Homo sapiens: one gene and its partners. The protein of the gene in region 5 purifies or fractionates together with the protein of the main gene of each other region. This does not show direct contact. Each region holds a gene or a part of one and is shown on either strand. Other genes may lie near its edges. The genes, in order: TOP3A, MOCS1, TMLHE, LARS2, SSC4D and CYP24A1.

Region 1 (5,114 bases), on a different chromosome or scaffold from region 5:
TGCAGTGGTGCAATCTCGGCTCACTGCAACCTCTGCTTCCTGGGTTCAAGCAATTCTCCTGCCTTGGTCTCCTGAGTAGCTGGGACTACAGGCGCCCGCCACCACACCTGGCTAATTTTTGTATTTTTAGTAGAGACAGGGTTTCACCATGTTGACCAGGCTGGTCTTGAACACCTGACCTCAGGAGATCCACCTGCCTCAGCCTCCCAAAGTGCTGGGATTACAGGCATGAGCCACCGTGCCTGGCTGCCTTTTGCAACTTTAATCTTACTTGCTCTCTCAGGCCTTTTGAGAAAAGAAAAATATTGTCAATTAAAGGGTTCTGTAGGGGAATTTCATGTCCCTTCAGCAAAGAATATAGGACATATACACACTGTCCTTGAAAGTTAATGCACTTAAATTTCCAGGAGTCATTACAGCTTTGAACACAAAACCACTAAAGGAAAGTAGCAACCCCACCCTCTGAGCCAGAGAATGGCCTGTTCATCACTCCCTCTAAGTTACCCAAAACCATTAACACTGTTAGAGCCTTTAAATCCACTGCAACAATTATTTATTAATAGTCGAGCATTGTATAATATGAGAGATTAAAAAAGAAAACAGAACATTTTATAATTATTTTTTGTACTTTACTTGTGGTATATTCATTCTTTTATACATATTCAATATGTAATTTTATTTTTCTATTTTTGCTTCCATTAACCAAATACTAAAAGAATTCAATATATAACAACAACAACAACAACAAAAAGAATATAAAGTCCCTGTTCTCAAGGAGCCGGGTATCTGCTTGTATGCTTGTACCTAACAAGAAATGAGTCCTGGGCTAAATGGTTTACACCACTCATTAACTCATCTAATCTCTGTGGCAGTCCCAGGAAACATGTCAGATTGGCCTGATGTTAGAGACAAGGAAGTTGAGGCTCCCAATGGCTCAGTGATTTGCTCCAGGACACATGGCTGGTGGGACTCACAGACTGGGAGGGAGAGTACCTGCAGAGGACCTCATCCGTGGCCCATGTGCACATATAAACAAGAACACTCTATTTATGGAGTTCCAAAGTAGAGAAAGTCAGCAGCAGCAGCAGCACTTACCAGCCTTACACACGTGGATAATCTCAAACCCGATGTTTTCGCCTTCTCTATCACAGTCAGTCCAGATCACCAGAGCCTGGCACTGGCGAGTCTCTCGTTCCAAAGTTTTCTTAAGTTCGCAGTGGAATAAGAGTGGTGAGAACAGAATTGCACAACAGTGACTTGACATCTCTAAGCTAAGGGGATCTGACTGAAGGTTAATGCTGCTCTTGGAGTGTGACAACTTGGCAAGGGAAAGAGAACAGAGAAAACTGCTCTCATTGGTGCTAATCATGATACAACCCCTTAGAACCATAAACGAGTTTCTAGAATAGAGGGTTTAATATAACTTCCCCAATATGACAAAACCTGAAATTCAGCTCTAACACACACACACGCGCGCGCGCGCGCGCGCACGCACACTTCGAGAGGTTCTGATTATGACCTAGTTAAAAAAAACGAAGCCGGCTGGGCGTGGTGGCTCACGCCTGTAATCCCAGCACTTTGGGAGGCCGAGGTGGGTGGATCACGAGGTCAGGAGATCGAGACCATCCTGGTTAACACGGTGAAACCCTGTCTCTACTAAAAATACAAAAAATTAGCCGGGCATGGTGGCAGGCACCTGTAGTCCCAGCTACTCGGGAAGCTGAGGCAGGAGAATGGCATGAACCCGGGAGGCGCAGCTTGCAGTGAGTCGAGATCGCACCACTGCAGTCCAGCCTGGGTGACAGAGCAAGACTCCATCTCAAAACAAAACAAAACAAAACAAAACAAAATGAATCCCAATTGAATTTCATCCAAAGTTTTATCAGTTCTCAATAAATTAACTGGCCAGGCTCGGTGGCTCACACCTGTAATCCCAAAACTTTAGGAGGCTGAGGCGGGTGGATCACGTGAGGTCAGGAGTTCGAGACCAGCCTGGCCAACATGGTGAAACCCCATCTCTGTTAAAAATGCACAAATTAGCCGGGTGTGGTGGCAGGCGCCTGTAATCTCAGCTACTTGAGAGGCTAAGGCAAGAGAATCGCTTGAACCTGGAGGCAGAGGTTGCAGTGAGCTGAGATTGCACCATCATACTCCAGCCTGGGGGACAAGAGCGAGACTTCGTCTCAAAAAATAAATAAATAAATAAATAAAAATTAAAAATAAATTAACTATACATGCCCTGACTGCTTGACAACTGGCAATTTACTGTCAAACAGGCATTTATACTTTGTAGCCTCTTTCATCTAACAAGGGGTGAGATGGGGGCTACGCGCTAATAATTTACAATACTTAGGATTATTTTTTGATAGGGTCTCACTTTCTCACCAGGCTGGAGTGTGGTGGTGTGATTACGGCTCACTGCAGCCTCAACCTCCTGCCTCCTGGGATCAAGTAATCCTCCTTCCTCAGCCTTACTAGTAGCTGGGACTATAGGCATACATCACCATGCCTGGTTAAATTTTTTTTTTTTTTTGAGAGATAGGGTCTCACTATGTTGCCCAGGCTGGTCTCAAATTCCTGGAGTTCATGTGATCCTGCCTTGGCCCCACAAATTGCTGGGATTACAGGCATAAACCACCATGTCCAGCCTTTATTCCTAGGATTTAAACAACTACCATTCATAAAAAAAGTTTACTTCAGTCCCTTGGCCACTTAGCCACATTTATACAATGGGTGGGAACCAGCTTTTTAAATCATGGTAGTGACTTTGGTGGAAAACCTTATCTCCAAATGCCAATGCATTAAAAACAAAGAAATCACTCTGTTTGACTCTGTGGTTTGACTCAGTGCCATATGTCTTCCAAAAGACCCTACCTTGATGTCTACAAAATTCTCTGGGCAGTACTTTTCAATTTCTGCTTCAAAGAGGACAAGAGGGTTGCAGCTCTGCCTAGAAAAGAAATGAAAACAGAGTCCCAACTCAGTACATGACAGAGAGCCCTCCAATCTAATGACAGCAAACTGTTCCAATGGGTTCATGGTGTATCCCCAAAAGAAAAGGTCCCGGTGAATTGAAAGTAAGGCTATGACCCTCTGCATGACACACTGTCCACTTCTCCAAGAGTGTGAACAGGACTGATAAGATGGCATTCTGGAGCCCTTTCACAGGTAAATGCAATCCAATGGCTGCATGAAAAAGGTCTGGCAATTTTGAGGAACACCAAAAGTGACTGTTTAAAGATTTAATAAAAATTCACAATGGATCAGATAATCCTAGGTCATCTTAGTATTATAAATTACTGCTGGGCGTGGTAGCTCACGCCTGTAATCCCAGCACGTTGGGAGGCCAAGGTGGGTGGATCACGAGGTCAGGAGATCGAGACTAGCCTGGCTAACACGGTGAAACCCCGTCTCTACTAAAAATACGAAAAATTAGCCAAGCGTGGTGGCAGGCACCTGTAGTCCCAGCTACTCGGGAGTCTGAGGCAGGAGAATCGCTTGAACCCGGGAGGTGGAGGTTACAATGAGTCAAGATTGTGCCACTGCACTCCAGCCTAGGCGACAGAATAAAACTCCGTCTCAAAAAATAAATAAAATAAATAAATAAATAAATAAATTACCAAGGCACAGTGGCTCACGCCTGTAATCCTAGCACTTTGGGAGGCAAAAGAAGGCAAACCCTGCTTTGTTTAAGACCAGCCTGGGCAACAGGGTGAAACTCCATCTCTACTAAAATAGAAAAAATTAGCTGGGTGTAGTGGCACATGGCTGTAAGGCCAGTTACTTGGGAAACTGAGGCATGAGAATCGCTTGAACCCAGGAGGCGGAGGTTGCAGTGAGACGAGATTGCGCCACTGCACTCCAGCCTGGGTAACGCAGCGAGACCCTGACTCAAAAAAAAAAAAAAAAAAAAACCGGGCATGGTGGCTCACGGTCTGTAATCCCAGCACTTCAGGAGGCTGAGGTGGGCAGACCACCTGAGGTCAGGAGTTCGAGACCAGCCTGGTCAACATGGTGAAACCCTGTCTCTACTAAAAATACAAAAACTAGCCAGGTGTGGTGGCACGTGCCTATAGTCCCAGCTACTCGGGAGGGTGAGGCAGGAGAATCACTCGAACCCAGGAGGCAGAGGTTGCTGTGAGCCGAGATCACACCACTGCACTCCAGCCTGGGAGACAGAGTCTCACTCTGAAACTTTGTCTCCAACAAAAAAAAAAAAAAAAAAAAAAAAAAAAAAAAAAAATTACCCAGTAAGATCAACATGCCTCAAAATTCCTGTGAAATTTCACAACTTACTATAATCTGAAAGTCCTTCCCTTGAGAATTGTACTGACCATTTTCGAAACTGCATCTGGAAATCATGAGCCAGTAAATGTCCAGAAACTGAAGTCATTACCATGGTAACATTCTGAATGATGACAAAATTCAAAATTCAGTTAGTCTTTTTGCAGTTATTATTCTGCCAAATCATTAAAATGAGAGGGAGGAGCTTCTATTAAAGACATTTTTAAAAACCTGATTGGGAAGAAATAAACATAAATATAAGCTCTTCAAAGCCAAAAGTCACAGGAATACAATCACCATTCTAATGATATGGTGTATAACTGACGCCTCTTGCATCAGTTAAATTTTCCTCAAACTATTGTATATTAGCTTTTTTTTTTTGTAATGAAGAGCTGAGATGGGACCATATTTTATTAAAAAGAGAACTCCTCATAAATTATAAAGTGATCACCCCATATCCAGGAACCTTTAGGTTGTTAACAGTTGTTATTCTTAAGACAGCGACATATTCTACATATGACGAGGCTGACTACTTTCTCTTGCTTATGATTGAAATATTTTAGAAATATTTTAGCACCTACCTGGCCATACAGATGATAATCAAATTCATAGATCTTGTTGAATTTTGAAAGTCCTTCTCTCTATAAAACAAAAATAAGTAAAAAATATAAATTACGTTTAAAACAATGGATTCCTTTGTATAATTCTTTCTGATCCTGAATTTGGCAATGATTTCTTGGTTATGATACCAAAAATATAACCAACATTGCTCCAAAGAAGATAAGAAATGGCCAACAAGCATATGAAAAGATGCTCAATGTTATTAATCA
Region 2 (5,010 bases), on a different chromosome or scaffold from region 5:
CATCCAGCAGGTTGCTGAAAAGCTTGGGGGTTTTTCTGGGCTGGAGATACGGAATTGACTTGGACTAGAGGTGGTATCTGTATCTGTGAGGTCTTGGCAGGAAATGGAAGGTGGGATTCTGAAGAGAATGTAATGAAGAAGCTATTTATAACATATAAGATTAAGGGAACCAATAAAGGATATTGAGGTACTTGGGACCAGCAGCAGCAAAGTGCTGTTCCCACTTAGGAAGGGCAAGGGGGAGGCACTGATGTCACTGGGGCCCAGGAAGGGCTGGAGCCTTAGAAGAGAGGCCACCTCATTGGCACTTGAGCTGTGCAGAGAAGCAGCTGCTGCCAGATACATCAAAGCAGGGAGGAAGTAGGGGAGAAATGCCTGAAGATTGTTCTTTCCCTTTACCCATTGATCTCCCAGGCAGGAGCCAGCTGGGGGGCGGGAGGGGAGGGTGGTACCAGGTGAAGTCCACAGGAGGAACCTCTTTGTTGCAGAGAAGGGAACCTGGAGGCTGGTTGGGGAGCGAGGCATGAGGAATAACAGGCACGCTGAAGCAGTTAGACCTATCCTAGATTTCACTGGTATCTTCTCCAGTGGTCTCTGCCTGCAGAAGCTTCTCAGACATTCTTCTTTCTCTGTGGCCACAGTGCCTTGTGCAGAGCTGGCACAGAGTAGATGCTTCATAAGTTTTGGTGGAAGGATGGTAGGTATATTGATTTCTGGGGCTGTCTCATCCATCCCTCTTACAGAAGCTGAGAAGCATTGAGTGAAGTTTGACCTTAAGTTGTCATGCCCAGCAGCCCTCAGCTGAAGCTTCCAAGCAGTGATCACAGACTCAAATAGGTACAGGGCAGTCAGGTGATGTCCACAAGGGACTTGGAGGGGCTGAGGTGAAATGGGATGTGTGTGCCACAACAGGGGTAGGAGACTTCCAGGACACACACAGCTCCAACTGGTTGGGGGCCATTCTCATGGTGATAAAGTGGCCATTCCAGCAAGTGTCTCAGAAGGTAGAGATCTGGATTTTTACATGCTATCTCTGTTGGCATCTACTTAGTTTTTTAAAAATACACTGAGGGAAGTATGACTGTAACTCACATATAGGTATTGGGAAGTCGAATTTTGCCTCTTGCTCTTCTAGCCTCTCTGACCTCCCTACAGCACCTCTGTCTCTCACTGCTAGGGGCCCTGCCATGGGAGGCCTGGGCCCTGGTGCTCCTCCCGGAGGGAGAACCAGGGAAGGAGTTAGCTCCTCAGAGGCCAGGAGGCCAAGGCTCAGGGGTAAGGAAGGCATATTGTCCTCACCCACATGTAGGTCTGCCTCTTTGGAAACTCTGAGGTATCCCTGCGGGATCACCTGCGAGCTGGGGCCTCTGAGCAGGAGCTGCTGAGAATCATTGGGGCTGCTGTGGGCAGGAAGAAGCGGCAGCATGCAGGTAAGTGCAGGGTGGGGAGGGCTGGCCTGGATGGTGAGTGGGCCTTGTCCCTGGGAGGGAGGTGTGGAGTTGTGGGGTGAGATGACCAAGGAACACCTAGGGGGAAGCTGGCGAGAGTCAGCATCATCCCCACTACCACTCACTGCTGTTGGCCCTCTGGACTCAGGGTACAGTGATGCTTCTCCTTCCATGGGGAAAAGTCATAGCAGAGGCTGCACAGGAGAGGGGACCCCAGATTCTCTTGGGCTGTTTTACTAGGTGGGGAGAAGGGGGTGTCATTGCTTCTTTCTCATCCCACACGTGGCCTTCTGTTTAGGGAGGGCAGGGTCCTGATGTCCACAGACTGTTCTTTGGGCTCAGCCTTGAGCGACCTCGCAGTGCACATGTGGGGGCCTTTTGTCATACAGCTGAGTGCATGTGCTCGGGGCTGTCAAGCGCGTTTGTTTCAGTGAACTCTCCTCTCCCCGCCCTGTCCCTCTCCCGCTCCCCTGCTTTCCTCTCCCTCTCCCCTTCCCCTGCTTTCCTCTCCCTCTCCCCCTCCCCCTCCCCTGCTTTCCTCTCCCTCTCCCCCTCCCCCTCCCCTGCTTTCCTCTCCCTCTCCCCTCCCCCTCCCCTGCTTTCCTCTCCCTCTCCCCTTCCCCTGCTTTCCTCTCCCTCTCCCCCTCCCCTGCTTTCCTCTCCCTCTCCCCCTCCCCTGCTTTCCTCTCCCTCCCCATCTTTCCCTCACCCCAGGCATGTTCAGTATTTCCCAGATGAAGAACCGGCCCATGATCCTCATCGGTGGGTGACCCATCAGTACGTAACCACTCACCCTTGTCATTTGGGGATCTCGTGGGGTGGGAGCCGTGCCATAGGCACCCCCAGCTCCTGCATTTCATGCTGATTTCTCATCCTTGTTTTTCTTCTATTCCTCCTTCATCTCTTCTTAACCTTCAAGGTTTTACTGTTTCTTCCCCCACTGTTCATGATCCCCCTTACTATACCTGCCACAGAAATGATCCTTCTGTCTCACCAGACATCAGAGCAGGGGGATGGTCTGCCAGATTTAATGATCACTAAGTTAGTGGCTCCCTGAGAATTGAAATCCTGGTTAAAACAGAGGCCTTTTCCTCGGCTCTAAAATCTCCCATTTGGATAATGTGACAGGTGTCCTCTGTAGTACCCAATGATCCATGCACGGTGTATCTGGACCATGAGCCCCCACGGGTGGATGTGTGGCCAGACGTCTGTGCTGGGCAGATCTTGAGGCAGCAAGTTAATAATGTTACTCACATGTAACATGAGGTAATGATGGCCAAGACCTCAACTTCCCAATTCCTTAACTCTCAGGAACATCTGCATAGGATGTATCATCGTGTGTGTAGGATGCTTCAAACAAAAGCCCCCTGGTTTTAAGTCCTTATGTGGTCTCCTACCCCTGGGGGCTGGGCTGGTCACTGAGGAGCTGTAGGGTGGCTGTTGCCCCTCTGTCACGGTGCCCAGATTATAGCAGGTGAGGCCTTGACCCTTTGCTCGCAGTCAGTTCTGAGCCCCCTGAACTGTGCCACTAGGAAAGAAAAAGCAGGGGGGAGAAAAGATGAGAGGAAAGATCCTTTCTTTAGAGGTTAGAGCAGAGGGAACTCAGTGGCCCAGAGGGGAAGGCAGGCTAGAGACAGCCCAAGGACCATCTTTGCCCACTGGCTGCCCGGGAAAGCAAAGGTAGCTTGCCACTGGGAAGAAGACTCTCATCTCCTCTCCTCCCACCCCCAGCATCCAAGTCCTCTTGTTGGGCCCTGACCCATGCTGAGGCACCTTCATGGCCTTGATGGCATCTCCCCAGAAGGGAGGCTGCCCCTCTGACATTGACATGTCTGGGGCTTAGAGTATGATGCGAAGTGGGAAGCTGGGGGAGCATTTGCCTCATACTTTCAGAGATATTGAGTAACCAGTCTGCTTTCTATACAACCAAGAGTTGCCTAGGACAGGGCCTCTCAGAATTTCATGTGCATGTGAATCACTGGGGATTTTGTCCTTTTGGATTGACTTGGAAGGTCTGGGGTGGGATTCTGCATCTCTTGTGAGTTCTCAGGTGGTGCTGGTGCTGCTGGTGCTGCTGGTCCATAAGCCAACCACCCTTTGAGTAACAAGAGCCTGCACCATTCCCTAGGCCCTCTGCACCATCTGAATTAGCCCGTCAGTTTGTATGTGCTTCTCATGTGCTTCAGGGGACTTGAAAAACATTTAAGTAGATCACAAATTCCCCTTATTATCTTGTCTGTAAACTAAGTGGTTATATTAACTCTTCATGGAGAATGTGAAGATAAAAATAGGTGTAATTGGTAATTTAGAGTGAGACCTAGCTCTAGTTTTAAGAAAATGAAGGGACATTCAGAGGTCATGTGATCCAGGCCTCAACTTGGTGCTGCTTGAGAGAACTTGGGAATTGAGAAGGTTTTCATGTGGAGGGAACCCTGTGCCACGGTGGCACAGCAGTTTCTAGGAGGGCTGTTACCCTGTACATCACTGGGTGAGAAGGGCTGTGAACTTGGACTCTGGGTGCCATCTATCTGTGGATCTTCTACTTTGTCTTGTCCCACTATGCTTTTTGTTCTTCATTCCTCTTTCCCCGGTATGAAAGAGAACTTGAGGTGGGATAGGGAGAGGGTTGGGGAGTAGAGGTGGGAAAAAGAATTGCCTTTTGGACTTAGTGTTTCTTCTCTTTTCTTCTTGCCTTGCAGAGTTATTTTTGATGTTCCCCAATTCCCCACCAGCCAATCCAAGCATTTTCTCCTGGGACCCGCTCCATGTTCAGGGTCTAAGACCCAGAATGAGTTTCTCCAGCCAGGTGGCCACTTTATGGAAAGGATGCAGGGTCCCCCAGACCCCTCCTCTAGCCCAGCAGCGGCTGGGGTCTGGCTCCTTTCAGAGACACTACACTTCCCGTGCAGACTCAGATGCCAACTCAAAGTGCCTTAGCCCAGGTTCCTGGGCTTCTGCTGCCCCCTCAGGACCCCAGCTAACCTCAGAACAACTAACTCATGTGGACTCGGAAGGACGGGCAGCTATGGTAGATGTGGGCAGGAAGCCAGACACAGAGCGGGTGGCTGTGGCTTCAGCCGTGGTCCTCCTGGGACCGGTAGCCTTCAAGCTTGTCCAGCAGAACCAGCTCAAGAAAGGAGATGCCCTAGTGGTGGCCCAGCTGGCTGGAGTCCAGGCAGCCAAGGTGACCAGCCAGCTGATCCCTCTGTGCCACCACGTGGCCCTGAGCCACATCCAGGTGCAGCTGGAGCTGGACAGCACACGCCATGCCGTGAAGATCCAGGCATCTTGCCGGGCTCGGGGCCCCACCGGGGTGGAGATGGAGGCCCTGACCTCTGCTGCAGTGGCCGCCCTCACCCTGTATGACATGTGCAAGGCTGTCAGCAGGGACATCGTGTTGGAGGAGATCAAGCTCATTAGCAAGACTGGTGGTCAGCGGGGGGACTTCCATCGGGCTTAGCACCTGCCCTTCTCACCCATGGCCCACCCAGGCCTGGAGCTGGGATGCAATGTAGGCTGAGGGAAAGACGTCAGGTTCCTTTAATCACAGTCACTGTTTGTT
Region 3 (5,114 bases), on a different chromosome or scaffold from region 5:
TCTTACCTGTTGCAGTCCACTGTCTCACACACCAAGCTCCCCTGGAAACACTCTCACCGACACACCCAGGGAACAATGTTTCAACAGCCGTCTTGGCATCCCTCAATCCAGTCAAGCTGACTCGTAAATTGAACCATCACAATGAGAGTGCAGGTATCTCTCCAACATACTGATTTCATTTCCTTTTAAAATACCCAGTAGTGAGTTCTTTGGATCATATGCTAGTTCTATTTTTAATTTTTTGAGGAACCTCAGTACTGTTGTCCATATTGCCTGTACTAGTTTACATTCCCATCAACAATGTATAAGATTTCCCCTTTCTACACATCTTCACCAGCATTTGTTGTTTCTTTAACATAAAGAGTGTAAAATCACTTTATTAGAAAGTTTAACTAATCAGTCACAAATGAACAGCATTTTTGAGCACTAAACAGAGGATTAAAATAATTTCCAAACACTAGAGAAAATTATTGAAAATTCTAATATTTTAGGCTTAAAATATCATTACCCTCATGAAAGCAAAAATCCTATAGATGATATTTTCTAATATATATATATATTCTAAGTACTATGAAATTATAATAGAAATCATCAATTAAAGTGTAACAAGTAATATCTAACCACGGGCAAATTTCTTTTAAGATCACTTTATTATATTTTATGTTATTAAATTAAATTTTGATTTTTTTAATTATTATGGGTAAATAATAGTTGTATATATTTATGGAGTGCATGTGATGTTTTGATACAGGCATACAATATGTAATGATCAAATCAGGATAATTGAGGTATCTATCATTTCAAGCCTTTATTATTTCTTTGTGTTAGGAACACTCCAGTTCTACTCTCTTAGTTATTTTTAAATATACAATAAGTTATTGTTAACTATAGTTGCCTTATTGTGCTGCCAAATACTAGATCTTATTCATTCTCTCTGTGTTTGTACATACTAACCATCCTTACTTTCAGCCTATTTTTTGTCTTTTTAATGATAGCCATTGTAACTGGGGTGAGGTGATATTGTGGTTTTGATTTGCATTTCCCTAATGATTAGTGATGTGGAGCATTTAAAAATATACCCATTTGCCATTTGTCTGCCTTCTTTGGAGAAATGTCTATTCAGAACTTTTGTCCATTTTTAAGGGAATATGTCTTTTTTGGTTATTGAGTTTGAGTTCCTTATATACTCCGGGTATTAATCTCTTGTAGATGCATAGTTTGCAAACATTTTCTCACATTCTGTGAGTTATCTCTTCACTCCGTTGATTGACTGTTTCTTAGAAATTTTCAAATTACGATACATTGTTATTAACTATAGTCATCACATGGAAAAATAGATCACTTGAACTTATTTCTCTGATCTAAAATTATGTATCCTCTGAGCAACATATCCCCAACCACCCAACCACTACTCCACAACCCACCAGCCTCTAGTACCCACCATTCTGCTCTCTATTTCTATGATATCAACTTTTTTTTTACATTACACATATGAGTGAGATCATGCAGTATTGATATTTCTGTGCCTGGCTTATTTTCACTTAATGTTCTCCAGGTTCATCCATGTTGTCACAAATGACAGGACTTTCTTCTTTTTCAAGGATGAATAGTATTCCACTTTTTATGCATACCACATTTTCTCTATATACACTCCCATGTATTCTGCCTAGATTGATTTTATATCTTGGCTATTGTGAATATTTCTGCAAAGAACATGGAAGATATCTCTCGGACATACTGATTTCATTTCCTTTGGGTATATACCCAGTGGTGAGATTGCTGGATGATGTAGTAGTTCTACTTTTAGCTTTTTTTAGAAACCTCCGTATTGTTTTCCATAATGGCTGCACTAATTCACATTCCCACCAACAGTGTGCAAGGGTTCACTTATCTCCACATCCTCATCAACATTGTTATCTTTTGTCTTTTTAATAATAGCCATCCTAAGGCGTATGAGATGATATCCCGTGGTGGTTTTAATTTGAATTTATCTGATTACTAGTGATGTTGAGCACTTTTTCATATACCTCTTGGCCATTTGTATGTCTTCTTTTGAGAAATGTCTATCCAGATCCTTTGCCCATTTTTAAATCAGGTTATTTGTTTTCTTACTATTGAGTTGTTTGAGTTCCTCAAATATTTTAGATATTAACCCCTTATCAGATGTATAGTTTGCAAATACTTTCTCCCATTCTGCAGGTTGTCTCTTCATTCTTTTGTTTCCTTTGCTGTGCAGAAGCTTTTCAGTTTGATGCAATTTCATTTACCTAGTTTTTCTTCCGTTGCTTATACTTTTGGATCATATCCAAAAGGTAATTGTATAGACCAATATCATAGAGTTATACCATGTGTTTTCTTCTAGTAGATTTACGGTGTCAGGTCTTACATGTAAGCGTTTAATCCATTTCTAGTTGATTTTTGTATATGTTGTAAGAAAAGGGTCTAATTTCATTCTTCTGCATGTGGACATCCAGTTTCCCCAGCACCGTTTATTGAATGTATAAGAGTTCTTTTCTCTCCACATACTTGCCAACGTCTGTCATTTTTGGTCTTTGTAATAACAGCCATTCTACAATGGCCATATTCCCATACTGTGGGTTGTTTCTTCACTCTGTTGATTGTTTCCCTTGCCTCACAGAAACTCTTTAGTTTAATCCAGTCTCATTTGTCTATTTCTGGGTTTTGTTTCCTGTGCTTTTGGGGAATAAAATCTTTTCCCAGAGCATTATCCTGGAGAGTCATCCCGAGGTTTTCTTCTAGCATTTTTATAATTTCTATAGCTCCTCCAAGGTCACACACCTGAACTGAGATTGTAATGGTGATCTAACTGAAAGCCTATTTATCTACCTATCTGAAAGCCCACCAGCTTTCACTTACACCACAATACACAAATCCATCAAATGCATCGTCTGCTCAATTATGGAGCTCTCTTGGGAAATACTTGTCTGTCAACTAAGAAGAAGGATAACTTTGTTAAATCTTCCTAGCTTTTCTTGTCAGATAAATGCCTGCTTTATTTGCTTTCCCCTACTCCCACGTCTCTCTTGCTTCATATCAAAGCAGGAAAAAAAGGAAAAACTGCACAATAATATGATGGCATCACTTTGTGCCAAAGTCCAGAAATAGTCTTATTCTAATCCAAAGTATTGCACAACCATTTTGCTTATGTGTAATAGACTTTTCCTGCTACTTTCTCTGTTGGCTTTAGAAAACACCACCATCTAATATAAATAGTGAATACCAAATTCCATGTAAGCTTGGACAAATCACAAGGTCTTATCATTATTTTCCTTATCTATAAAGTAAGACAATAACAGCTGTACTACTTACCTCACGTGGTTATCATGCAGAGGGTCAATCAGATAGTGTATATGGAAACATTTCTAAACTGCAAATCTCAGTTTGAAGTCAAAAGATTGTAAGTGTGATCTGTAAAAATGTTGCTCTCATGAACAAGCGTACACAGGAATTACGATCATTTTTCTGTTCTCTGGTATAAACAATGAGTTAAAGAATTAAGGACACCTGATTTCAAAACCTCTCTGCTACGTATGAACTCTGTGGCAGGTCTCTAAGTTTCAGTTGCCTTAAATGTAAAAGGAGGTTAATAACACCTTTCCTTCTGGGATGATGAAATAAGTAAATTAAATAATATTTTCACAAATGCCTAACCCAGCACTAGAAGTTTCTGGAAATGACAATGGGTGTCAACAGCCTGGTGAAGACTGTGCTTCCTCACTCCATTCTCCCTCCAGGCATGGCTCCTTGAAGCCTGGGAGGATGGACTATTATATTCTTTTTCTTTCTTTCTTTCTTTCTTTTTTTTTTTTTCTTTGAGACAGAGTCTCGCTCTGTCGCCCAGGCTGGAGTGCAGTGGCGCGATCTTGGCTCACTGCAGCGTCCGCCACCCAGGTTCAAGTGATTCTCCTGCCTCAGTCTCCCAAGTAGCTGGGACTACAGGCGCGTGCCACCGCGCCTGGCTAATTTTTTTGTTGTTTTGTTTTGTTTGTATTTTTAGTAGAGATGGGGTTTCGCCATGTTGGCCAGGCTGGTCTTGAACTCCTGGCCTCAGGTGATCTGACCGCTTTGGCCTCCCAAAGTGCTGGGATTACAGGCGTGAGCCATCGCGCCCGGCCTATTTTTGCATTTGATTCTTGCAGTAGCCCTGTGAGATCAGCTAAGCAGATGTTATTATGCTCATTTTATATGCAACAAAACTAAGAATGTTGGCTCTGATTGTGCCATGTACTATCTAACACTAAGGAATATTGCCTGAGATATCCAAAAATGGCACCATTGGATGTTAATTTATCTTTGGAAAGAATATCTTTGGCAGTATCTAGTAAATCTGAGCATACACATACCTTATGATCCATAAGTTCCATTCTTAAGTTTATTTCAAATAGGAGTGAATATATTTGTTCACCAAAAGACATGTAATAGAATGTTCATAACAGCACTGTTTGTAGTAGTTCCAAACCGGAAATTACTCATATGTCCATCAACAGTAGAATGGATAAACTGTGGTGTGATCACGCACTCAACTTCCATATAGCACCAATAAACTATTGCTAAGCAATGATGAAACTCCTAAACATAATATTAAATGAAAGAAGCCAGACACAAAATGAATACATATTGTGATTGCAATTATATAAAGTTTTATATAAACAGGCAAAACTAATCTTTGGTGATAGAAGTCAGGATGGTAGTTACCCGTGGGTTGGGGGATGGGCGTTACTGGAAAGGGGCATAAGGGAGGGTTCTGGGGTTCTGGTAATGATCTGTTTATTGACCTGGGTGCTAGTGATATGGATGCGATTACATCATGAAAATTCATCAAGCTTACGATTTGTGTACTTTTTCCGTAATGTATAGTATACTTCAGTAAAAAGTTAATTTGCCTTAGGCAAAACAGAAACCCATTATCTTAGGCAAGGTTTTTCAGTGGCTTCCCATGGTACTCAGAATAAAATCCAAAGTCCTTACCATGGCCTGCATGGCAATATATACATGATCTAGCCCCTGACTACCTCCTCCACGTAATTTCTCCCACCATTATTCCCCTTGCTTACTCAGCTCCAGCCACGTGACCTTCTTACTGGTCGGCAAAC
Region 4 (5,114 bases), on a different chromosome or scaffold from region 5:
GTGGTCTGGAACAGTGGTCACAGATGCCAGTCCTAGAACTAGCTGCCTCAGAATCACTGGGGGGCTTGCAAAGCACAGACAGGTGGAGGTTCTGGCTCCCACCCCTAACCCAGGGGACAGGCTCCAGGAATCTTTCTAAGAAGCCTCCCAGAAGGTTCTGCTGTGCATTCAGGCTTGAGAATGCCTAGCCTAGTGGCCAGACAGTACAAGGACCTGGACTGACCCTAATTTGGCTACTGGTATAACCCAGGGCCACCAGGTAAAGCCATTCAGCTTTACCAGAAGATCAGACCAGCAGCTGGATTGGATGAGCTTGTGTAAAATATGGAAAACACACATACCTGCAAGGACAGGGATTGTGCCAATGCACTTCACACTCTACAGCAGTGTGGCTGCAAGCACAGTCATGCTATCCACAAGGTAAGAGCTTGCACCAGCAGGAGTCAGCACTGTCTCCAAAGCACCATGTTAACTCCATGGCATTTTTGTCCCAGCAAGCTTGCTTAATCAAGGCGGCGGGGCACCAGGGCTCATCTTGACCAAGCTTCTGAGCTCATGACCGTTGGTGGGTGGCACTTTGAGTGGCCCTGCCATCCAGTGCTCTGAATCTGGGCACTAAAATGAGATAGAATTGGTCCTGGTCTGAATTCTCAGACACTGAAGGCCAGGGAGGATCCTTCAGCCTGCCCTCAGAGGAATCCATCAGGGTGCAGTGAAGTGTCACATCAATTCACAGGTGTTTTTCTCTGCTTAGTTATACCAAGTCAATCACCCTTATGTTGCACGCTCTCTCTTTCTCATTTACTGATGCTGAATTCAGCTGATGCTCTCCCTGGGGTGCTGAGATGGCAACAACGACTGTGGACCTTGACAACTCGGTTTATTGAGGCCAGGGCTTCTGGGAAGTCTCCCCAGCCTCAGCTGCTGAGTAACAAGGAGAAAGCTGAGGCCAGGAAGCTCTGGGAGTACAAGAACTCCGTCATCTCTCAGGTCAGAAACTCTCCAATTCCAGGGGTTAACTCTGTAACCAAGCACTCTTTGGGAACCTTTGCCTGTGGTCTTTGCTGCCCTCCCTGCCTTGGGTTGGGCCACTGTGGGTCTTCCTTCCTGGCAATGGCGGTCCTTCTTGCTTTGATTGATTGGCCCTACTGTTTTGGGTACTTTACCAAGGTGGATCAACAGTGCATATGTTCTAATGGAAAGAGATGCCCCCAGGAAATGGCTCTCTGATGATGTCTCACATTTGTCCATCCTGGGTCTCAGGAAGCTGCCACTTTCCATGTTTCCACATTTAACACATCCAAGCAGAGAACCAAATCCAGGATCACCCTGTCATCCAGGATGACACCGCATATGTTACATTAACAGAAATACAATTTTAGAGTTGGAAGGGGCATTAAGAAACTATCCTCTGTAGCCTCCTCATTGTACAGATGGGGACAGAGATGATGTCCAGATATCTTGCCTAACGTCACACGGCTAGTGAGGAACTGAGCAGAGATTAGAATCCCAGTCCTCCACATAGTGAGGACTTTCCCACTCAGTTACTTTGTTACACAATATCCATGTGAACTATTGTGGGTTAATTTCTGCAAATCTGAAGTCATTGTAATGGGTATCTGATATCCCAAATTCTTCTTAAGCTGATTTAAAAAAAAAAAAGTTATGCTGATTCAGACATAAAGTTAATCAGTGTCGCTCATCTGCACTCTGATAATGAACACAATGATGCATGGCAGGTTTTTGCCTCTCTGGTTTGTATAACCTGAAGTGGCCCTGGGTCCAGCATGGTCTTATTTGTTGACACTTCTTCAGCTTTATTTCTGGCCTCTGTACCCTCTCTATGTGGAGGAACAGAGCTCCCTGAATGAATGTAGGGGTCTGAGTGATGCCTGAGCGATTGAGTTCATACCACATATTTTCTCCCTGGATTTGGCAAATTCTTCTATTCTGTCAGATAAAAGAATTAGGTTATTTCAACAAGTTGGAAACTCTTGACATCCTTAAAGATGTGTTACTTTTCTGTATTCTTGCCTATAGTCAAAATGGAAAAGCACAGAAACATGAAAAAGCTGACAAGCTGTGTTAATGTTCTTATGTTGACTGTACATTTCAAAATGTAAAATTGACAAGGCGCAGTGGCTCACACCTATAATCCCAGCACTTTGGGAGGCCAAGGCGGGCAGATCACAAGATCAAGAGATTGAGACCATCCTGGCTAACATGGTGAAACCCCGTTTCTACTAAAAACACAAAAAATTAGCCTGGCGTGGTGGCACGCGCCTGTAATCCCAGCTACTCGGGAGGCTGAAGCAGGAGAATCACTTGAACCTGGGAGGCAGAGGTTGCAGTGAGCTGAGATCGCACCACTGCACTCCAACTTGGGTGACAAAGCGAGTCTCCGTCTCAAAAAAAAAAAAAAAAGTAAAATTAACCTTATCCCATATTCTAAAAACCGTCACTGTGAAGCAAAGTCACATAACCAAGCAGAAGTGGCATCCTTTATTCCTGTTTTCTGTTATGTTGAGTTTACCCATCAGTGGGTCCTGCGTCCTATTCATGTTACTAGCATTGCTTTTTTTTTTGACAAAGTCTCACTCTGTTGCCCAGGCTGGAGTGCAATGGCGCAATCTCAGCTCACTGCAGGCTCCACCTCCCAGGTTCAAGAGATTCTCCTGCCTCAGCCTCCCAAGTAGCTGGGATTACAGGTATGCGCCACCACACCCGGCTAATTTTTTGTATTTTTGTAGAAATGGGGTTTTGCCACATTGGCCAGGCTGGTCTCGAACTCTTGACCTCAAGTAATCCACCCACCTCGGCCTTCCAAAGTGCTAGGATTACAGGTGTGAGCCACTGTGCCCAGCCACTAGCACTGTTTTTCTAAGCACCTACTATGAGAACCAACAGTATCCCAGATATGTGGAAGAATAGTCTTAAACAGTGGAAACAGTGTTGACTTTGAATTTTAAAATATTTGTGTAGATGAAACATAGCGATTATTTGAGATAGTAGATATATTTATAAATATCTTTGCATCCCATTCATTTTCCTTTTTTTTTGTTTTGATAATTCAGTCTTTTTGTGGAAAGCTTAAAAGAATTTTGAAATAAGTAAATAATTGAACCTTTACTAATAGGTGACCACCCATTTCACAGAGGACTTCTCACTGAATTCTGCAATTTCTCAGCTGATGGGACTCAGCAATGCCCTCTCGGTAAGTGGCCTGTCCTCATTTGCTGGTAGCAGAGGAGGGAGGGAGAGGTGTGGCAAGGGGCCCCACAGGGTCCCAAGAGGGACAGAGAGCACCCCCACTGTGTCACCGCCTCAGTGTGGCTTGATTATCTTAAGGAAACATTTTTCCATAGTCACAACCTAGTTTTATGCTGGAATGTTCTTAAAGATTTTCTGGTCCAAACCCCCTTCTCCCCCAATATTTTACAGATGAGGACATTGAGGCCCAGGGAAGTTAGATGACATGTCTGGTTGATTAGTGACAAATCTAGGACCAGACTCAGGCCTCCCTGTCTTCTGGCTCTTTGCACCCCCGCTGTCTGATTTCATGAATGAATTGTGATACCTCCTCGGCATCATTACATTTGATATTCATTTAACCTGGATGGATCAGGATCGTTCTCACCAATGCCAAAAGTCAGCCTTTTCAGTATGGACTTCCTTCTTGCTAAGTGTGACTACCATTTTTCTTGCCAGGGAAAGGATTTGTCAACAAATGTTCTTAGCTACTGGACAACAAAAGCATTCATTAAAGCTATTAACAAATGCTTTTTAAAAATGAAGTCCTCTCCAAGCTTTTAAGATCAGTGGGGGCCAGGCACAGTGGCTCATGCCTGTAATCTCAACGCTTTGGAAGACCAAGCTGAGAGGATCACTTGAGGCCAGGAGTTCAAGACCTGCCTGGGCCGCGTAGAAAATAAAATAATTAGGCCAGGCATGGTGGCTCACACCTGTAATCCCAGCACTTTGGGAGGCTGAGGCAGGCGGATCACGAGGTCAGGAGATCAAGACCATCCTGGCTAACACAGTGAAACCCCATCTCTACTAAAAAATACAAAAAATTAGCCAGGCGTGGTGGCAGGCACCAGTAGTCCCAGCTACTCAGGAGGCTGAGGCAGGAGAATGGTGTGAACCCAGGTGGCGGAGCATGCAGTGAGCCAAGATCACGCCACTGCACTTCAGCCTGGGCGACAAAGCAAGACTCCGCCTCAAAAACAAAGTAAAAAAATAAAATAATTAGCCTGGCATGGTGGCATACAGCTGTAGCTGTAGCTACTCGGGAAGCTGAGGCGAGAGGATCGCTTGAACCCATCCTGGGCAACAGAGCAGGAGACTCTGTCTCTAAAAATAAAATTAAAAGGGTAATTTTTAAAAAGTAAAATAAAGATAAAAAAGAACAATGGAAGAAATTTCAAATTTGACTACATAAAACTTGACATTTTCAGTATGTTAAAAAAATTTATAACATGTCAGACAGAAGGTTAATATCCTTGTAAAGCACTCTTACATATTAATATGAAAATACCTAACCAAAAATGGTCAAAGCATATGAAAAGATAATAACTCATAGAAAATGTTATAGAAATAGCCAATACATTTGTGGAGAAAAAAAAGTCTGCCTCTCTAATTATCATGAAAGGCAAATTTAAAACAAGATGCTTTTGTTTTTGTTTTTGTTTTTTTTTAAATACCTGTCAAATTTGCTGAGAATACTTTAACGTAACTATTCAGGGCCAGGCACAGTGGCTCATGCCTGTAATTCCAGCACTTTGGGAGGCCGAGGCAGCAGGATCGATTGAGCTCAGGAGTTTGAGACCAGCCTGGGCAACATAACAAGACTTCATCTGTAAAAAATTTAAAAATTAGCCAAGTGTGGTGGCATGCACCTGTAGTTCTAGCTACTCAGGAGGCTGAGGCGGGAGGATCCCTTGAGCCCAGGAATTTGAGGTTGCAGTGAGCTGTTTGGTGCCACTGTACTCTAGCCTGGGTGACAAAGCGAGACTCTCTCTCAAAAAAATAAAAATAAAGGCATAATTATTCCCCATGCTATTGCAAAGATGGCAGAATAGACTTTTACACGCCAGTGATAGGTGTGGTTGGTG
Region 5 (5,672 bases):
TGGGAGAGGGGGTTGGCAGGGTTGGCTCGGCCCAAACCATGACCAGCCCAAGGACTCAGAGATTATCCTCCAGGGCTGCACATTTGATTTTGTTTTCTTTCTTTCCTTCCTTCCTTCTGTCCCTCCTTCCCTCCCTCTCTCCCTTTCTTGCCTCCCTCCCTTTCTTTCCTTCCTTCCTTCCTTCTTCCTTTCCTTTCCTTTCTTTTCTTTTCTTTTCTTTCTTTGATGGAGTCTCGCTCTGTCGTCCAGGCTGGAATGCAATGGTGCGATCTCCGTTCACTGCAAACTCTGCCTCCCGGGTTCAAGCGATTCTCCTGCCTCAGCCTCCTGAGTAGCTGGGATTACAGGCACCCGCCACCACGCCCGGCTCATTTTTTGTAGAGATGGGTTTTCGCCATGTTGGCCAGGCTGGTCTTGAACTCCTGACCTCAGGTGATCCACGCGCCTCAGCCTCCCAAAGTGCTGGGATTACAGGCATGAGCCACCGCACCTGGTCTGTGCATTCGAAATATAGTATTGGTGCCACGGACAGCAACCCACTTAATTTGGGAGGATATAGATACTCATGTATTGTTTTATTTTCAATAATTCTTTTTAAATTGTACAATGCCTTCTAAAAAGGACTCTGGTTTTCCGTTTATCAGAACAATATAGTCTCCCTTTCAAATTAATTAATTAATTTTTTTTACTTTAAAGAATTTTTTTATTTTTTATTTTTTACAGATAGGGTCTCACTCTGTCACCCAGGCGGCAGTGCAGTGGCATGATCATGGCTCACTGCAACCTCCCTATCCTGGGCTCAAAGGATCCTCCCGTCTCAGCCTCCTGAGGAGCTGGAACTGCAGGCTTGCACCACCACACCCAGCTAATTATTTTTCTTTTTTTCTTTTTAGTAGAGATGGGCTCTCGTGCTGTGTTACTCAGGCTGGTCTCAAACTCCTGGCCTCAAGTGATCCTCCTGTCTTGCACTTTTTTTGTTTTTAATACCCCAATCCTAAATCAGAAAAAAAAAAAAATCTTCAAGGCCTTTCCACCCAAAATGGGCCGAGCATTGTAAGCAGCGTTTAGTCTCTCAGACCTTCCTTCACTTTTTTTATGTATTTGTGTGTCATGGTAACTATGATTTACTTAATATTTTTCTCATTTTATTGGCACATTTCTTCTGATTTAAATTATTTATTTATTTATTTATTTTTGGAGACAGAGCCTCCCTCTGTCACCCAGGCTGTAGTGCAGTGGCCTGATCTCAGCTCACTGCAACCTCCACCTCCTGGGTTCAAGGAATTCTTCTGCCTCAGCCTCCCGAGTAGCTGGGATTACTGGCATGTGCCACCATACTCGGCTAATTTTTGTATGTTCAGTAGAGACGGGGTTTCCCCATGTTGACCTGGCTGGTCTGGAACTCCTGACCTCAAGTGATACACCCGCCTCGGTCTCCCAAAGTGCTGGAATTACAGGTGTGAGCCACCAGGCTTGGCCCTGATTTAAATTAACTCTAGGCCAAGTGTGGCAGCTTACTCCTGTGAGCACTTTGGGAAGCTGAGGCGGGAGGATCTCTTTTTTTTTTTGAGACAGAGTCTCGCCTTGTCGCCCAGGCTGGAGTGCAGTGGCACAATCTCGGCTCACTGCACCCTCCACCTTCCAGGTTCAAGCGATTCTCCTGCCCCAGCCTCCTGAGTAGCTGGGATTACAGGCGGGTATCACCACGCCCAGCTAATTGAGGGAGTATCTCTTGAGCCCAGGATTTCAAGACCGGCCTAGGCAACATAGTGAGACCCCATCTCTACAAAACTAAAAAACAATTAGCTGGGCATGGTGGTGCATGCCTGTAATCCCAGTGCTTTGGGAGGCTAAGGCAGGAGGATCACTTGAGCCCAGGAGTTCAAGGCTGCAGTTAGCCATGATCATGCCACTGCACTCCAACTTGAATGACAGAGTAAGACCCTGTCTCTAACTAAAAAGAAAAAAAAAGTGCATAAACCATGAGCTTAGAGCTCAAAGAGCATTCACACCATGTAACCAGTGTCCCAGAAGCCTCTCTCACGTCCCCTTTTCTTGCAGACTTTTAGCAAGGGTCTGATGCATTGTGTGCACTGTGGACTGGTTGGTTGGGGAGAGATGGGAAGCTGGTTTAGAGGCTGATGCAGTTGTCCAGACTCTAGGCCATAGGAGGCAGAGAGGAAGGAGAGATGCGAAGGATATGTGGGAGACTGAACTGGCAGGACTGGGCTACTCTTGGTGTTGGGGGTCAGGGAGCTAGGAGCATCCATTTGGCTCCCAGCCACCCTGATGGGGACTTTGTAGGAGGCGGCGGTAGAGAGGATGGTTCTGTTTGGGCTACACTGAGAGTGGGACTGGGGGACATGGGTGCTTGTCCCAGAAGGAGCTCCCCACCATCCCTCCAACCCCCTCCTCTCTCTGGCTTTACCTGTGCCCTGGTGTACAAAGTCTGGTTGGGGAGAAGATGAAAGCCTATCTGGATGCAGACACAGGGATTTCAACACCCCATTCATGGGGCCCAGGACAGCCCCCAGTGGAATAATCACCTTTTGTCCTCCTTCTGCCTGGACTGGGGACAGCTGGGAGATGGGAGCTGAGAACCATGAGGAGGGGGAAAGACACAGTCCAGTCTTTGCTTGTTGTGGGGGGGCACATAGTTATCTTGGCCTCCTTTTGCCTCCTGGCCTCAGTGCCACCCACTTCTCAGGCTGCTGGGATACTGGCCCCCCAGGCCAGATCAGCCCCCACCCTGGGGACAGGCAACTTCCAGAGACCCTGCCAGGAATCCTCAGCTTCCCCACCTCTATCCCCTGCCACCTCAGCCCAGGCGTGAGGGAGAAGGACCCCCGATCCTGATCCCCACAGATTTCAAATCCCAGGTGACCCCAGAGCCCTCTGCCAAGCCTGCCTCCTACCCTCCCAGCTCCAAGGTGGGCCCCTCCAGTCTGCTCCTGCTTCACGCCCAAGGGAACACTGGCAAGACAAGGCTTCATCCCTCCCTGTCCTTGGTGATTAGGGCTCTTGAAAGCCCTCCCATCCCTTCATATCCCTTTCAGAGTCCATCTGTTGCCTACATTTTCTACAGTACAGCCGGCAGCCTAACACAGCGGTTCATATTGCAGCATCAGCTCCACCATCTCCTAGCTGTATGACCTTCACCTTGCAAAGCCTCACTGTTCTCATCTGTAAAATGGCTTTCGTGATCCACTTACCCCTTATCATTTTTGCCAAGTTCAATGAGCAAATGTTTTCACAAGGCTTAGCCCAGTGTCTGGCCCACTCTAGGTGTGGTAGCTATTGTTATCATTACTGTTTCTCCATCGAGACTGCAGACCCTTGAGGGTGGAAACCAGATCTCATTCAGTGGTTGCCCTTGGCACAGGGTGGATACTCAGGAAATGTTTGTTGAGTGACTGAATCAAGGTGATGGCTACAGAATCATAGAAAACAGCAGCCAGAAGGGGCTTGGGAGATTAACAAGGACAATTTCCCATCTGACCAGTGGGAAATGGTTGCCTCTCTCTCTCTCTCTCTCTCTGTCTCACACACACACACACACACACACACACACACACACATGCATGCACACGCACACACACACAAACACTCCAGCAAAAGTGAAGGATTCATACCTGGGGGAATGTTCTGGGCTCTTTCTGTCCCTTCTTCTACAGTCAATCCAAGATCGAATCACTTTGTCTGCCCCTGGAAGTTTAGGAGGAGGAAGGATCTTCCAAATGGAAATCAACACAGGCGTTTCTTCTTTTCTTTCCACAGCTGGAAGGTGAGCAGAGGCAAAGTCCCTGTCCATGGAGCTGGCTGGTGGCCCCAGCCTGTCCCCATCCGACCTTAGGGACAGCAAGAAGCAAAGGGGAGTGGAGGTGGCCGGCACCAGCTGGAGCGGCCCCAGAAAAAGGGCACCCAGGTGGAGGCGGAGCTATGTGGTTGGGGGAGGCATGGACTCTCAAGGCCAGGCAGCCCCTCCTCCCCCCACAGCCCCCCCACCCCAGGGTTCAGGTTTCAGGAAGGCCTGGATAGGTCTCCACCCCTTTGCAGGGCAGCCAAGCATCCTGATCTTTGGAGGTAGCCCTGATCCAGCCCAGGAGTCCCGCCTGATGATGTCCCGACCCACATCTCAGCTGAGGGTTTGGAAATGGTCCCAGGAGCCACAGTGTATGGAGTGGGTTTCCCACATAGACAGGACCTCACAACCTCACTTGGGGGCTGCTGATTTTGCCTTCTTTTTTTTTCTTTTTTCTTTTTTTTCAGACAGAGTCTCTCTCTGTCACCCAGGCTGCTGGAGTGCAATGGCACGATTTCGGCTCCCTGCATCCTCCGCCTCCCAGGCTTAATCAATTCTCGTGCCTCAGCGCCCGAGTACCTGGGATTACAGGCATGCACCACCATGCCAGGCTAATTTTGTATTTTTAGTAGAGACTGGGTTTCTCCATGTTGGCCAGGATGGCCTTGAAATCCTGACCTCAAGGGATCCGCCTGCCTCGGCCTCCCAAAGTGCTGGGTTTACAGGTGTGAGCCACCGCACCCAGCCTAATTTTGCCTTCTTGTGTAGTTCTTTTTTTTTTTTTTGAGATGGAGTTTCGCTCTTGTTGCCCAGGCTGGAGTGCAATGGTGTGATCTCAGCTCACAGCAACGTCCGTCTCCCCGAGTTCAAGGGATTCTCCTGCCTCAGCCTTCCAAAGTGTTGGGATTACAGGCATGAGCCACTGCACTGGCCAAAAAAAAAAAATGTTGAGAAGCTCCTGAGGATCAAACAAATTGGGGACCAGTCCCAGCTTTTTATGGTGAGGCTGGGAAGACTGAGGCCAAGGGAGGAAAACAGGTGGCATGAGTGTGGGCCCGGCAGGACTTAATTTCCTGACTCCTGGTCATGATGCTGTTTCCTATTTCTTGGAAAAAGAAAGTACTAGATGTACCAGGCGAGGTGGCTCATACCTGTAATCCCAGCACTTTGGGAGGCTGAGGTGGGCAGATCACTTGAGGTCAGGAGTTCGAGACCAGCCTGGCTGACATGGTGAAACCCCGTCTCTACTAAAAATACAAAAATTAGTCAGGTGTGGTGGCGGGTGCCTGTAATCCCAGCTACTCGAGAGGCTGAGGTGGGAGAATCGCCTGAACCCGGGAGGTGGAGGTTGCAGTGAGCTGAGATCGCACCACTGCACTCCAGCCTGGGCAACAGAGCAAGACTCCATCTCAAAAGAAAAAAAAAAAAAAAAAAGAAAAGAAAATACTTGATGGAAGGCTGCCATCACCATGCTGCAAAATCTCCACGCCCCTGCTGCCCGCACCTGTCCTTCCTCCCTCCCTCCTCCCCTGGCCTGGGGAAGCCCCTTCCCTGAAGTCCAGATTCCATTCCTTCCGTCATCTCAGGGACCTCTTTCCCTCCATCTGCACATCTATCTGTCTTCCATGTTCAGCTGCTCCTTCCCAATCAGATTTTTCGGTTCCTAAGCAAGCTCTCGTCTTTCCCATTAAAGCAAACAGTGGCCAGGAGTAGTGGCTCATGCCTGTAATCCCAACACTTCCGGAAGCAAAGGCAGGAGGATCGCTTGAGACCAAGAGCTCAAGACCAGCCTGGGCAACATAGGGAGACCCCATCTCTATAAAAAATTAGAAACATAGCCGGGCATGATGGTGCGCACTGGGCTGTAGTC
Region 6 (5,114 bases), on a different chromosome or scaffold from region 5:
GATCACGATGAACAAGCTGGGAGGAAGGGGAGCCTGTGAAAGGAGATGAGGTCAAAAAGAAGGCAGGTGTCCAACAGGGCACAGCTCATAGGTCCTGGCAAGACTTTACCTCTCATCTGACTCAGATGGGGCAAGTAAGGGAGGGAGGACATGACCGCTTTCTTCAAAGATTACTCTGGAAATAAAGGGCAGAGCTCACTGCCCATGGGGGTGCAAGAGGAGAGCAGGCAGCTGTGATCAGGTGGGACAGCGCCTGGCTGAGGACATTCAGGGCTGTGGGAGAATCTGAGAGGGCCACCTAAGCCGGACATGGCCAGGGGTCGCTTCACAGAGATGGTGCCCCTCAGCTAAGTCCTGATGGTTGAGTAGGAGTTCACCAGGTGAAAAGGGAGGAAGGAGAGTGTCCCTGCAGAAGAAGTGCGGAATGACAAGCATATCCTGTAACAGAGGCTGGCAGAGGGCCAGCAGCCAGCTCATGGAGGGCTGTATGAGCGGGAGTTTGAATTTTAGCCTGTAAGTAACCGGGAGCTGCGGGAATGTATTCAGCAGCAGTGTGATATATGGGCAGATTTACTGGGAGGATCACTGTGGCTGCTGATGGGAGGGATAGAAGGAAAACCTATAACACTTCCATAAATTCAAGGTCAGAAATATTGCCATAAATAGATAAATATAAGTAACTTTTTTTAATTACTTATTTGAGACAGACTCTCACTCTGCCCCAGGCTGGAGTGCAGCGGCGTGATCTCGGCTCACTGCAACCTCCACCTCCTGGGTTCAAGCGATTCTCCTGCCTCAGCATCCTGAGCAGCTGGGACTACAGGTGCACACCACCATGCCTGGCTGATTTTTGTGTTTTTTAGTACAGATGGGGTTTCACCATGTTGCCCAGGCTGGTCTCGAACTGCTGACCTCAGGTGATCCACTTACCTCAGCCTCCCAAAGTGCTGGTATTGCAGGCGTGCGATACCACGCCTGACTAACTTTTGTGTTTTTTAAGTAGAGATGGGGTTTTGCCACCGGTTGGTCTCAAACTCCTGACCTCAGATGATGCTCCCACCTCCACCTCTGAGAGTGCTGGGATTACAAGCATGAGCCATTGTGCCCAGCAGAGTAACTAATTATTTTTAAAGTTCATGTACCATCCAGAGCTATCTCACATATTCCCAGTGGTGTACCTGCCAACCACTGTGGAACACAAATACGGGGAAACCTTGAAAGGCTGGGAAGAAATAAGTAGAGTTTGGAAAACATGGAGGTAGTTGGAAAAGCTGTGGGTGGGTGCTGACTAAGCTAATTGACTCTCACTCCTCAGGTTTATGATTTTAGGCCATTTGTTTACCTTTTTAATGCTAGTCTCCTACTTTATAAGTCAAGAGCCAATTATCCACCACTAAAAAGTTGGTTGCAGTAATCCTGTATAATTTTTTTTTTCCAGACTGTGTCACTCAGGCTAGGGTGCAGTGGCCAGTGGTATGATCTCGGCCCACTGCAACCTCGGCCTCCTGGGCCCAAGAGATCTTCCCACCTCAGCCTCCAGAGTAGCTGGAACTACAGGCACATGTAGCCATGCCTGAATAATTTTTTTATTTTTATTTTTTTGTAGAGACAGCGTTTTGCCATGTTGCCCAGGCTATTCTCGAACTCCTGGGCTCAAGCAGTCTGCCTGCCCGAGCCTCCTGAAGTGTTGGGATTACAGGTGTGAACCACCACGCTCGGCCCTGTGTCCTTTTTTTAAAAAAAAAAGGTTACAAGAGATAATTTTTAGGACAATGGGGAACATTTTAAAATGGGACACAGTAGATTTTTTATGGAATGGTCGCTAAGGTTCTTAGGGATGTTAATGACATTGTGGTTATGTTGGAGAATGCTTTATTCTTAGGACATTACTGCTAAAGTATTTAACGGTGAAGTGACCTGAGAGCTCAAAATTATTTTCAGATGCTTCAGCACACACAACCACGTATACACTTGTATGCATACATACACACAAAGAGAAAGAAATGGCAGCAAGATGTTGATGAGTTCGGGGGATTCAGGTATTCATTTTACCATTCCTTCAACTTTTCTCTAGGTAAAAAGTTTTGAAATGAAGAGTTGAGAATTTTATTTGTAAAAAGGTTCCTTCTAAATAAAATGATGAAATGGAAGGAAAAAAAACCCTATATGAAGTGCTAGCCCAGTACCTGGCGTGTAATGGGTGTTTAGAACATAATTATTCCCTTCCCTTCTCTTCCTCTGGTGAATGGCTTCCAATTCATTATGTCAGGAGATAGAATCCAATAAGTGACTCTAAAAACACAGCTGGGTTAGAGGCAGAGTGCAGACCCGACCCTGCAGCACCTTTGCTAGGGCCCCTGGATCTCCTGTGTGACTTGATCAGGACAGTGGATCTCTGATCATGACACTCTGAGGTGATGAGTCATTGGACCTGGAGATAATTTCTAGAAAAAGAAAGTGATGGTGTCCCCTTTCTCTCAGACTCTGCTTTTCCTCAATATTCTTGGACTGTTGCCTTTTCTCAGAAAATCCCACACTTTTAAGAGGCATAGAATTGAGTCTTTAATAACCAGCTAAACATAGACTCCAACTCCAGCATTGCTGTTTGTGTAAAGTGATGATTATTTTAAATGACAGGTATCTGCCTCGTGTTGTATGAGAAGAGATTTGGGCTTCTCCAGAAGAATGCAGGGGATGAAGCTGTGAACTTCATCATGGCCATCAAAACAGTAAGCAGCCTCTTTAAGAAAGCAGTTTTCTTGATTGATGTTTTACAGATCGATTTTTACAGAACTTCACAGTGATTCCCAAAAAATGGCATACACACATATTTTATTTCAATAGTTAAGTGTTCATTTTAATGTGCATTATATATTTTAGTATATTTATGTGCATATATGCGGCTGTCTCCAACCTTTTTGGCACCAGGGACCAGTTTCGTGGAAGACAATTTTTCCATGGACAGGGCAGGGTGGTGGGGCAGGGGAGGGAGGATCATTTAAGTGCATTACGTTTACTGTGCACTTTATTTCTGTTATTATTATATACTCACCATAATGTAGAATCAGTGGGAGCCCTGAGCTTGTTTTCGTGCAACACGAAAGTCCCATCTGGGGGTGATGGGAGACAGTGACAGATCATCAGGCATTAGATTCTCATAAGGAGTGTGGAACATAGATTCCTCGCATAGGCAATTCACAATAGGGTTCACACTCCTGTAAGAATCTAATGCAGCCATTGATCTGAGAGGAGGCAGAGCTCAGGTGGTAACACCTGCTGGCCCGCTGATCACCTCCTGCTGCGCGGCCCCGTTCCTAACAGGCCACTGACCAGTACTGGTTCACGGCCTGGGGGTTGGGGACCCCTGGATATATGCACGTAACATAAAGAAGCACATTAAATCCATTATTTCTTTGTTTAGGCAAGGTTAAAATAGCTATTTTAATTAAAGATCAGTTGATTAAAAATACTTTTTAAAAAGAGCCCAAAATTTTTCAGATTTTATCTTTTTGAATAGTTTGGGTGGCGTGTAGATAGGATAAACGCTGTGAAATTGGTTTGGAAATCACTGAAGTTTGGAAATTATTAGAAATTGAAGTGAATATGAAAGTTATCGTTTTTCCTCTTTTTTTTTTTTTTTTTACAATTAGGTCATAAGATTACAATTTTTATCAAACACATCCAGTGGAAAATCATCCCCCACATTACCTTCAATATTGAAAGGAGGTGGAGGTGGGGTACGGGCATTGCTCCCAGGACCGGTGCAGAGAGAGCCGGGGGTGTCCTTGTAATTCCAGCCTTTTAAAAAGTGCAGGGTGCTGCGGTTTAGAATGTTCCTCTTCCAGAACGAACATTGTCTTTGAGAGAAGGAGAATTCAGAATAAAAAGGCATTTGCATTTCTCTCAGATGATGAGCACGTTTGGGAGGATGATGGTCACTCCAGTCGAGCTGCACAAGAGCCTCAACACCAAGGTCTGGCAGGACCACACTCTGGCCTGGGACACCATTTTCAAATCAGGTAAAGGGCCGCCCTTCACAACCAGCCAGAACCAGCCCAGCACCCCCGTGTCTGGAGCTTCAGAGAGGAGGTCTGGAGTGATCTCCTGAGCCTCATCACCACATTTAGGTTTTGCAAACACAGGTGTTTTGGGGATTGCCCCAGCATACACAAATTCTAAGTAACAAGCTTTCTGTAGTCTTCTTTGGGAATTAAGAGTGGTTAAAAGTAAAATCTGGCCAGGTGCAGTGGCTCACCCCTGTAATCCCAGCACTTTGGGTGGCCCAGGCGAGCAGATCACTTGAGGCCAGGAGTTTGAGATCAGCCCGGTCAACACGGTGAAACCCAGTCTCTACTACAAATACAAAAATTAGCTGGGCGTGGTGGTGGGCACCTGTAATCCCAGCTACTCAGGAGGCTGAGGCAGGAGAATTGCTTGAACCTGGGAGGCGGAGGTTGCAGTGAGCCAAGACTGAGCCACTGCACTCCATCTTGGGAGGCAGAGTGAGACTCCATCTCAAAATAAAAAAGTAAAATTTATAGAGTCAGGGACTCCTGAGTTCAAGTTCAGCTCTGTCACTGGTTGTGGTGGCTTGGCCAAATGTGCAATCACCTTTTCATCCTCAGTTGCCTTGTCTCTAAAATGGACTAATAATTAATAATAATAATAAGAGAACCTACCTCAATGTAACTGTTTCTGGGTCTACTACAGATTACAGTTAACATAAAAACCTGGCATATCACAGTATCTCCGTGGACTAGATCTATTTCTGCCACATGACGAAGGGGAATATTTGATGCTAGGCATTGTTCACTTACACATTTAGTTAATCCTCACAACACACCTATAAGGTAGGTCCTTTTATTAGCCCTGAGAGGGGTACCTGAGACACATAGAAGTTAGCCAACGTTCCCAAGATTGCATGCTAGGTGATGGCAAAGCCAAGGTTTGAAGCCAGACAAGGAGCTTCCAGGACTCGAACTCTAACTGCTGTGCCATATGTGATCAGCATGATTATTACCATATAATGAGCCTGGTGGTTGTTTGCTTAATAGTGAGGGAGGTACACGCCTAGATTTTATGTTATAAATATTAGAAATTTTTACCATTATTGT

The links.
Region 1: the proteins of SSC4D (region 5) and TOP3A purify together in Homo sapiens (affinity purification with mass spectrometry; one large-scale study listed by BioGRID and IntAct). This does not show direct contact.
Region 2: the proteins of SSC4D (region 5) and MOCS1 purify together in Homo sapiens (affinity purification with mass spectrometry; one large-scale study listed by BioGRID and IntAct). This does not show direct contact.
Region 3: the proteins of SSC4D (region 5) and TMLHE purify together in Homo sapiens (affinity purification with mass spectrometry; one large-scale study listed by BioGRID and IntAct). This does not show direct contact.
Region 4: the proteins of SSC4D (region 5) and LARS2 purify together in Homo sapiens (affinity purification with mass spectrometry; one large-scale study listed by BioGRID and IntAct). This does not show direct contact.
Region 6: the proteins of SSC4D (region 5) and CYP24A1 purify together in Homo sapiens (affinity purification with mass spectrometry; one large-scale study listed by BioGRID and IntAct). This does not show direct contact.

Annotation. Positions count from the first base shown.
Region 1 is NC_000017.11:18,304,017-18,309,130, forward strand, and holds part of TOP3A (DNA topoisomerase 3-alpha), read right to left. Parts: intron 4,926-5,114; coding exon 4,866-4,925; intron 4,409-4,865; coding exon 4,335-4,408; exon of another isoform or gene 4,297-4,334; intron 3,480-4,296; exon of another isoform or gene 3,457-3,479; intron 2,951-3,456; coding exon 2,875-2,950; intron 1,205-2,874; coding exon 1,096-1,204; intron 1-1,095. UniProt on the Homo sapiens protein: Releases the supercoiling and torsional tension of DNA introduced during the DNA replication and transcription by transiently cleaving and rejoining one strand of the DNA duplex.
Region 2 is NC_000006.12:39,906,255-39,911,264, reverse strand, and holds part of MOCS1 (molybdenum cofactor biosynthesis protein 1), read left to right. Parts: intron 1-1,309; coding exon 1,310-1,430; intron 1,431-2,162; coding exon 2,163-2,210; coding exon of another isoform or gene 2,211-2,218; exon of another isoform or gene 2,219-2,225; intron 2,226-4,147; coding exon 4,148-4,908; 3' UTR 4,909-5,010. UniProt on the Homo sapiens protein: Isoform MOCS1A and isoform MOCS1B probably form a complex that catalyzes the conversion of 5'-GTP to cyclic pyranopterin monophosphate (cPMP).
Region 3 is NC_000023.11:155,493,362-155,498,475, reverse strand, and holds part of TMLHE (trimethyllysine dioxygenase, mitochondrial isoform 1 precursor), read left to right. Parts: intron 1-4,365; exon of another isoform or gene 4,366-5,114. UniProt on the Homo sapiens protein: Converts trimethyllysine (TML) into hydroxytrimethyllysine (HTML).
Region 4 is NC_000003.12:45,517,083-45,522,196, forward strand, and holds part of LARS2 (leucine--tRNA ligase, mitochondrial), read left to right. Parts: intron 1-820; coding exon 821-990; intron 991-3,136; coding exon 3,137-3,214; intron 3,215-5,114.
Region 5 is NC_000007.14:76,405,782-76,411,453, forward strand, and holds the start of SSC4D (scavenger receptor cysteine-rich domain-containing group B protein precursor), read right to left. Parts: upstream 3,917-5,672; 5' UTR 3,633-3,916; intron 1-3,632.
Region 6 is NC_000020.11:54,163,357-54,168,470, reverse strand, and holds part of CYP24A1 (1,25-dihydroxyvitamin D(3) 24-hydroxylase, mitochondrial isoform 1 precursor), read left to right. Parts: intron 1-2,637; coding exon 2,638-2,729; intron 2,730-3,907; coding exon 3,908-4,019; intron 4,020-5,114.